Homo sapiens: one gene and its partner. The protein of the gene in region 1 purifies or fractionates together with the protein of each later gene. This does not show direct contact. Each region holds a gene or a part of one and is shown in the gene's direction. Other genes may lie near its edges.

Evidence for each region.
Region 2: the proteins of KIR2DL4 (region 1) and GINM1 purify together in Homo sapiens (affinity purification with mass spectrometry; one large-scale study listed by BioGRID and IntAct). This does not show direct contact.

Annotation. Positions count from the first base shown.
Region 1 is NC_000019.10:54,806,610-54,810,109, forward strand, and holds part of KIR2DL4 (killer cell immunoglobulin-like receptor 2DL4 isoform c precursor), read left to right. Parts: intron 1-2,223; coding exon 2,224-2,274; intron 2,275-3,500. UniProt on the Homo sapiens protein: Receptor for non-classical major histocompatibility class Ib HLA-G molecules. Recognizes HLA-G in complex with B2M/beta-2 microglobulin and a nonamer self-peptide (peptide-bound HLA-G-B2M).
Region 2 is NC_000006.12:149,576,375-149,579,874, forward strand, and holds part of GINM1 (glycoprotein integral membrane protein 1 precursor), read left to right. Parts: intron 1-2,447; coding exon 2,448-2,599; intron 2,600-3,459; coding exon 3,460-3,500.

The DNA of each region.
Region 1 (3,500 bases):
CCCTACACTTTTTCTTTTCCTTTGAAAAAATGCTGATTGAGGTTAAATATACCTATATAATTTATCAACTTTACCATTTTTAAGTGTAAAATCTAGGGATCATAAATACCTTTATATGCTGTGTGCGGTGGCTCATGCCTGTAATCTCAGCATTTTGAGACGCCAAGGCAGGTGGATCATTTAAAATCAGGGGCTGGAGACCAGCCTGGCCAACATGGGGGAACCAATCTTTACTAAAAAGACAAAAAAAATAAAATTAGCCAGGCATGGTGCCAGGCGCCTATAATCCCAGCAACTTGGGAGGCTGAGGCGGGAGAGTGGCTTAAACCCAGGAGGAGGAGGTTGCAGTGAGCTGAGATCATGCCACTGCACTGCAGCCTGGTGACACAGAGAGACTCTGTCTCTAAATAAATAAATAAATACTTTTATATTCTTCTTTTGTTACCCTCCACCCCTTCCTTCCTAACCTCTGGTATCCACCATTCTACTCTCTACCTTCATGAGGTCCACCTTTTACATCCTGCATGTGAGTAAGAAATGGCAATCCTTGTAATGACCTCCAGTCCATCCATGTGGCTGCAAATGACAGGACGTTACTCTTTGTATGGATGAGTTGTCTCCATTGTGTGTATGTACTACTTTCTCTCTATCCATTCATCCACTGATGGGCAGGTAGGTTGACTCCACATCTTGGCTACTGTGAACAGTGCTGGAACAGTCATGGGAGTGCAGATGTCACTTCAATACACTGAAGTCCTTTTCTTTGCATTTACACCCACTAGTGGAATTGCTAGATCCTCTGGATGTTCTCTTTTTAGGTTTTGTTTTATGCTTTTTGTTTTTTTGACATAGCGTTTCACTCTTGTTGCCCAAGCTGGAGTGCAATGGCACCACCTGGGCTCACTGCAACCTCTACCTCCAGGATTCAAGTGATTCTCCAGCCTCAGCCTCCCGAGTAGTTGGGATTACTGGTGCCCGCCACCACGCCTGGCTGATTTTTGTATTTTTAGTAGAGACGGGGTTTCACCATGTTAGCCAGGCTGGTCTCGAACTCTTGACCTCCAGTGATCTGCCCACTTCAGCCTCCCAAGGTGCTGGGATTACAAGCGTGAGACACAGTGCCTAATCTCTTTTTAGTTTTTAAGGAACTTCCATATTCTTCTCCTCTGTAATGGCTGTATTAATTTACATTCCTATCAACAGTGTATTAGGGTTCTCCTTTCTCCACCACCTTGCCAACATTTGTTTTGTCTGTCTCTGAGATAAAACCCATTGTAATGGGGTGAGATGATAGCTCATTGTGACTTCATTTGCATTTCTCTGATGATTAGTGATACTGAGCACTTTTTCATATATGCAATGTATATATGTTCATTTGTATGTTTTGTTCATTGAGAAATGTCTGTTCAGGTCTTTTACTAATTTTATAATTAAATTATTAGTTTTATTGAGGTGTTTGAGCTTCTTTTATATTCTAGTTATTAATCCCATCTCAGATGCATAGTTTGCAAATATTTGCTCCCATTCTGTGGGTTGTCTCTTCTTCACTTCATTGGTTGCTTCCTTTGCGGTGCAGAAGCTGCTTGATTTGATATAATCCCAATGGTCTATTTTTTTGTTGTTGTTGTGATTACTTGTGTTTTTGAGGTTTTAAACAAAATGTCTTCCCTCAGACAAATGTCCTGGAGCATTTCTCCAGTGTTTCCTTTTAGACATTTAATGGATTCAGGTCTTAAGTCATTAATCCATTTTCATCTGATTTTTGTGTATGGTGAGAGGTAGAGGTGCAGTTTCATCCCTCTGCATGTAGATATCCAGTTTTCCCTGCACCATTTATTGAAATGACTGTCCTTTCCAGATTGTAGATTCTTCGAACCTTTGTCAAAGTCCATTGGATGTAAATGGGTGGATTACATCCGTGTTCTTCATTCTGCTCCATTGTTTTATGTGCTTTTCTTTATGCCAATGTCATGTTGTTTTGCTTACTACAGCTCTGTAACATATTTTTAAGTCAGGTAGTGTGATGCTCCTGTTTTCTCCTTATACCTTGAAGTCTCAAGATAGTTGGTGTCACCTACAATGATTATGGAGAATGGGATGCCAGGACTCCCAGGGCCCAACATTAGATAATAGAATGTTGGCCATGAACCAACCTCAAAGATTTCCATTGAGTAGAAGACAGGCATCCTCATTGCCACACCTCTCTCCTGTCCCGTGTTCTAGGAAACCCTTCTAGTAGTTGGCCTTCACCCACTGAACCAAGCTTCAAAACTGGTAAGTGAAGGACCCCTCTTATCTCTGCTTTTGGAAACCTGGGGAGGTAGAAGCCTTGGATTCAAGCGTTGGCTCAGCACCTGCCAGCTCTGTGATTGTGGGCCTGTCTTCCATTGTCTCTGAACCCCAGACACTCCAACAGCGAAAGGGATCTGGGCCCAGCACAGGGCTCAGTGAAATCTCTTAATCTCTAATTTTCTGCTGCTGAGACCTCAGGGTAGAAGGATGAGTGCAAATCAGACATTCTTCTCAGGAAAAATGCTGTGTTTGTTCTGCCTGCATTCCTAACTGGGAGGACAAATGCCTGGGGGCTTGAGAAGGGGAAGGAAGGGGAACATTTTTGAGGGTGGTGTATTTGTAGAGAAGTTCTACTTGCCAAGGAATGAGCTCCTGTCTGTCATGATCCAACCCTGGTTGACTTAGTGGAACAAGAGCTTTGCGGTAAGAGAGAACGTAGTTCATCCGTGCACATGACACTTCCACTTACTCGTTCAGCCACTGCCCCATGCTCAGACTGTGCAGTGTGGAACCTTTTCCTATGTTGCCATAACAAATTTCCACAAGCTTCGTGGATGGAAACCACATTTTTAAAAAATATCTCATGGTGCTGTAGCTCAGAAGTATGAAATGCATCATCTCACTGGGCTAAAATCAAGGTGACAGCAAGGCTGCCTTCCCTCTGAATGTTCCAGGCAAGAATCTGCTTCCTCACTTTTCCCAGCTCCTAGAGGCTCCCACATTCCTTGGCTCCTGGTCCCCGTCTTCCTCCCTCAAAGTCCACAAAGGCTGGTCACGCCTCTCACACGGCATCACTCAGACCCTTCTTCCTTGTCCACACCTCTTTCTCTGAATGCTGCTCTGCCTTCTTCCTCATCTTTTAAGGACTTTGGCATTCTATTGGAAACACCAAGATAATCCATCATAATTTCCCTAAAATCATCTAGGATACCCTCCTTTTAAGGTTAGCTGATTAGCAACCGTAATTCCATCTGCAATCTGCATTCCTTTTTTCCATGTAAAATAACATATTCACAAGATATGGCGACTAGGACAGGAATATTTTGGGGTGGGGCGGCATTCTTATCCTTTCCACAAATGGTAAACAAGGTGCATTTGGCCTCTGCTCTTGGACACTGATATTGCAAAGGATTAAATGGGAGGGCAGAAAATGAATGCACCAGTGGACCAATAAATGAATGATCCATTGGGAAGCATCTGTGCATGAG
Region 2 (3,500 bases), on another chromosome or scaffold:
TAGCAAGACAGAAGTCATAGCCATTAATAATCTAATTGTGGCAGTAACATTCCATCACTTGGGCTATGCTCTGTTTGTTAGAAACGAGTCACTAGGCTGTGTGCATTGGCTCATGCCTGTAATCCCAGCTATTTGGGAGGCTAAGGCTGGAGGATCACTTGAGGCCAGGAGTTCAAGACCAGCCTAGGCAAGATAGCAAGGCTGTCTCTTTCAAAAGAACAAAAAAAGAAAAAAAAATCATTCATAGATCGATAGATAGATAGGTAACTAACTGACTAGTCACTAGGTCCAGCCCACTTGAGGGAGGAATTGCAGAAATGTCTGACTCCTTAGAGGCAAGGGTCATTGAGGGGCATTTTTGAAAGCCGCCTACCACAGTAAGGAAGTCAATATGAAGGGCTTTGTTGTTTTTTATTTAATTTTATGCTGTATTAGAGGTACTGTATGAGGCTCTTCTCACATTGCTATAAAGAAATACCTGAGACTGGGTAATTTATAAAGAAAAGAGGTTTAATTGGCTCATGGTTCTGCAGGCTGTACAGGAAGCATGGCACCAGCATCTGCTCAGCTTCTAAGGAGGCGTCAGGAAGCTTTTACTCATGGTGGAAGGCAAAGGGGGAGCCAGTATCTCACATGGCAGAGCAGGAGCAAGAGAGAGCAAGAGTGGCAGTGGGGTGCCGTAACCCCAAGCCATGAGGGATCTGCCCCCATGGCCCAAACATCTCCCACCAGGCCCCGCCTCCAACATTGGGAATTACATCTCAACATGAGATTTGCGGGGAACATCCAAACTATATCAGGTACCAAATTTGCAGGCTGAAGAATTGCCACTTGGGTGTATTTTTATGACTGCATTTTCTCACCCATTGAGTCTCCTGTACCTTAGTCTTTGGGCTTACGGACATGCTGACACAGCGCCTGCTGTTCCACGAAGGAGACCCACGGGTGGTAATGGTCAGTTAAAACACGGGGATGGACCATGAGAGAGGGGGTACCTTTGACAGTGGTGCTTTTCAAAGGGCATGAAGGATTAGGCACACTAGAGAGAGGAGCAGCGAGGGGCCAGATGAGGAGCCTGAGGAGGACCAGTGAGAGGACCGGGAACTTCACAGAAGTGCCACTAAAGGTGTGTGAGCAGGAGGCTGTGGACTGAAAACCACGTCACAGTGAGACGAGCTTGGCATGTTGTCTGAATGGTTTGGCGGCGGGGACTAAAGCAGGGGAGAATAGGTAGGTATATCTTGTAATAGTAAGTAGTTAATGAACTAGATATTGAGATATTCCAGACAAAGGAAGTAGCCCTATAGATGCACAGAATCAGACTAAACAGCTGGGTGTGCATTCAGATTGTATATCTGGATTCCTGTTTGGCAAAAATCTTCAGATTATTTGAGGGATAGAAATAAAATGCTCCATCTGTGACAGGTGCATTGGTGTATGTTGTTTTATCTTTTTCGATAGCACTTCTACCTTAATAGAGTAGCCGTTGGCTCTGTAAACCAGCTGCAGCTACTACACCCCGTTTCTACTGGAGCAGGAGTAGAGGTTTCCTAGCTAGAGAAGAACGTGGACAATAGCTAGTCCTACCCCATTATCGATTACCAGAGAGAAATGACAGGCCTCCCCCACCCTCTTTCCCCATTCCTGCTCTCTCTAATAGTAATGAGTCACTAATCGGGGAAAGGATTGATTAAAAAACTCAATGTTCTTACTGCTTGGGCATCTTCTCTCACAGGATTTTGTGGATGGATGAATGTATGTGCTTATTATGTTAAAACGTGGGATTGGCTGTATCTTCTGGCTGGCTTTATAGTTGTGCCATGTTGGTTCCTCATGGCCAACCTGTATAAAAGAATAGGAAAGATGGGCCAGGCGTGGTCGTTCACGCCTGTAATCCCAGCACTTTGGGCAGCCAAGGTGGGTGAATCACTTGAGGTCAGGAGTTAGCAAGACCAGCCCGGCCAATATGGTGAAACCCTATCTCTGCTAAAAATACAAAAAAACAGCTGAGCATGGTGGTGCAAGCCTGTAAACCCAGCTACTTGGGAGGCTGAGGCAGGAGAATCCCTTGAACCCAGGAGGCAAAGGTTGCAGTGAGCCAAGGTGGCACCACTGCACTCCAGCCTGGGCGACAGAGCAAGACTCCATCTCAAAAAAAAAAAAAAAAAAAAAAGAATAGGAAAGATGTTGCTAGTGTGGTATTTCATACAAAGTCTAAAGATCAACACATTTTACCCTTTCAAATGAGTGTAAGCAGTCATAAAGATTTGTCAGATTGTCTTTGTTTTTAATAAATCTGAAACAGCATTGAGGTCAGGGATGAAGAAAGCCAAAGAAATGGGTTTTCAACTGTCTTGTTCCATGTAAATGTCATCAAAATAATCACACTCACTCACAGATTTGGTGGTAATCTTTGTTCAAAGGTGTCACTACTTTTTTTTTTATAGTGAAGAATGAAAATCTTGAAAATTTGGAGGAAAAAGAATATTTTGGAATTGTCAGTGTAAGGATTTTAGTTCATGAGTGGCCTATGACATCTGGTTCCAGTTTGCAACTAATTGTCATTCAAGAAGAGGTAGTAGAGATTGATGGAAAACAAGTAAGATAGTATGTTTATTAATTGGGAATTAAATGATATTTAGATTTGTGCTAGATATTATGCATGTGTTCAGTTATTTTATTTGTTTCCGACTTGATAAGGAAGGTGCCTAATGTTGCCTATATCCAATTATTTAGAATTTTTGTATATTTATTTTAGCATTTGAAATGTATTTTTAAAATTTCCCATATTCATACATGTTTGTATCACTTTAAAATGTACAGACATTATTAAATAGAAAGTAAGCAAAGAGATTCAATTTGGCTCATAGTTCTGCTACCATTTCCTCTATGGTAAATGAAGTCTCTGTGTGTAAATGAAGTAGAATCGAGATTAAGCTTATAATAGTAAGTGTTAAAGCAGGACAGGAATATTATTAAAGTTGCAAGTTAAGTGCCCCAAAGTGGGAGTACGGGGAAATAAATAGTAATTGTTAGCTGGGCATGGTGGCTCACACCTGTAATCCCAGCACTTTGGGAGGCCAAGGTGGACGAATCACCTGAGGTCAGGAGTTCTAGACCAGCCTGACCAACATGGAGAAACTCCTTGTCTCTACTAAAAATACAAAGTTAGCTGGGCATGGTGGCGCATGCCTGTAATCCTAGCTACTCGGGAGGCTGAGGCAGGAGAATCGCTTGAACCCAGAAGGCGGAGGTTGCGGCAAGCTGAGATCGCACCATTGCACTCCAGCCTGGGCAACAACAAGAGCGAAACTCCATCTCAAAAAAAAAAAAAAAGAGTAATTGTCTGAATAGGACACATGTTTTAGTTATATAAATCTGGGAGGAAAATTTGCTTTTAAATTTTTATGGGGCTGTGCTACTATTTAAAATAAAGAATAATTATATTTTCTTTCACAGGTTCAGCAAAAGGATGTCACTGAAATTGATATTTTAGTTAA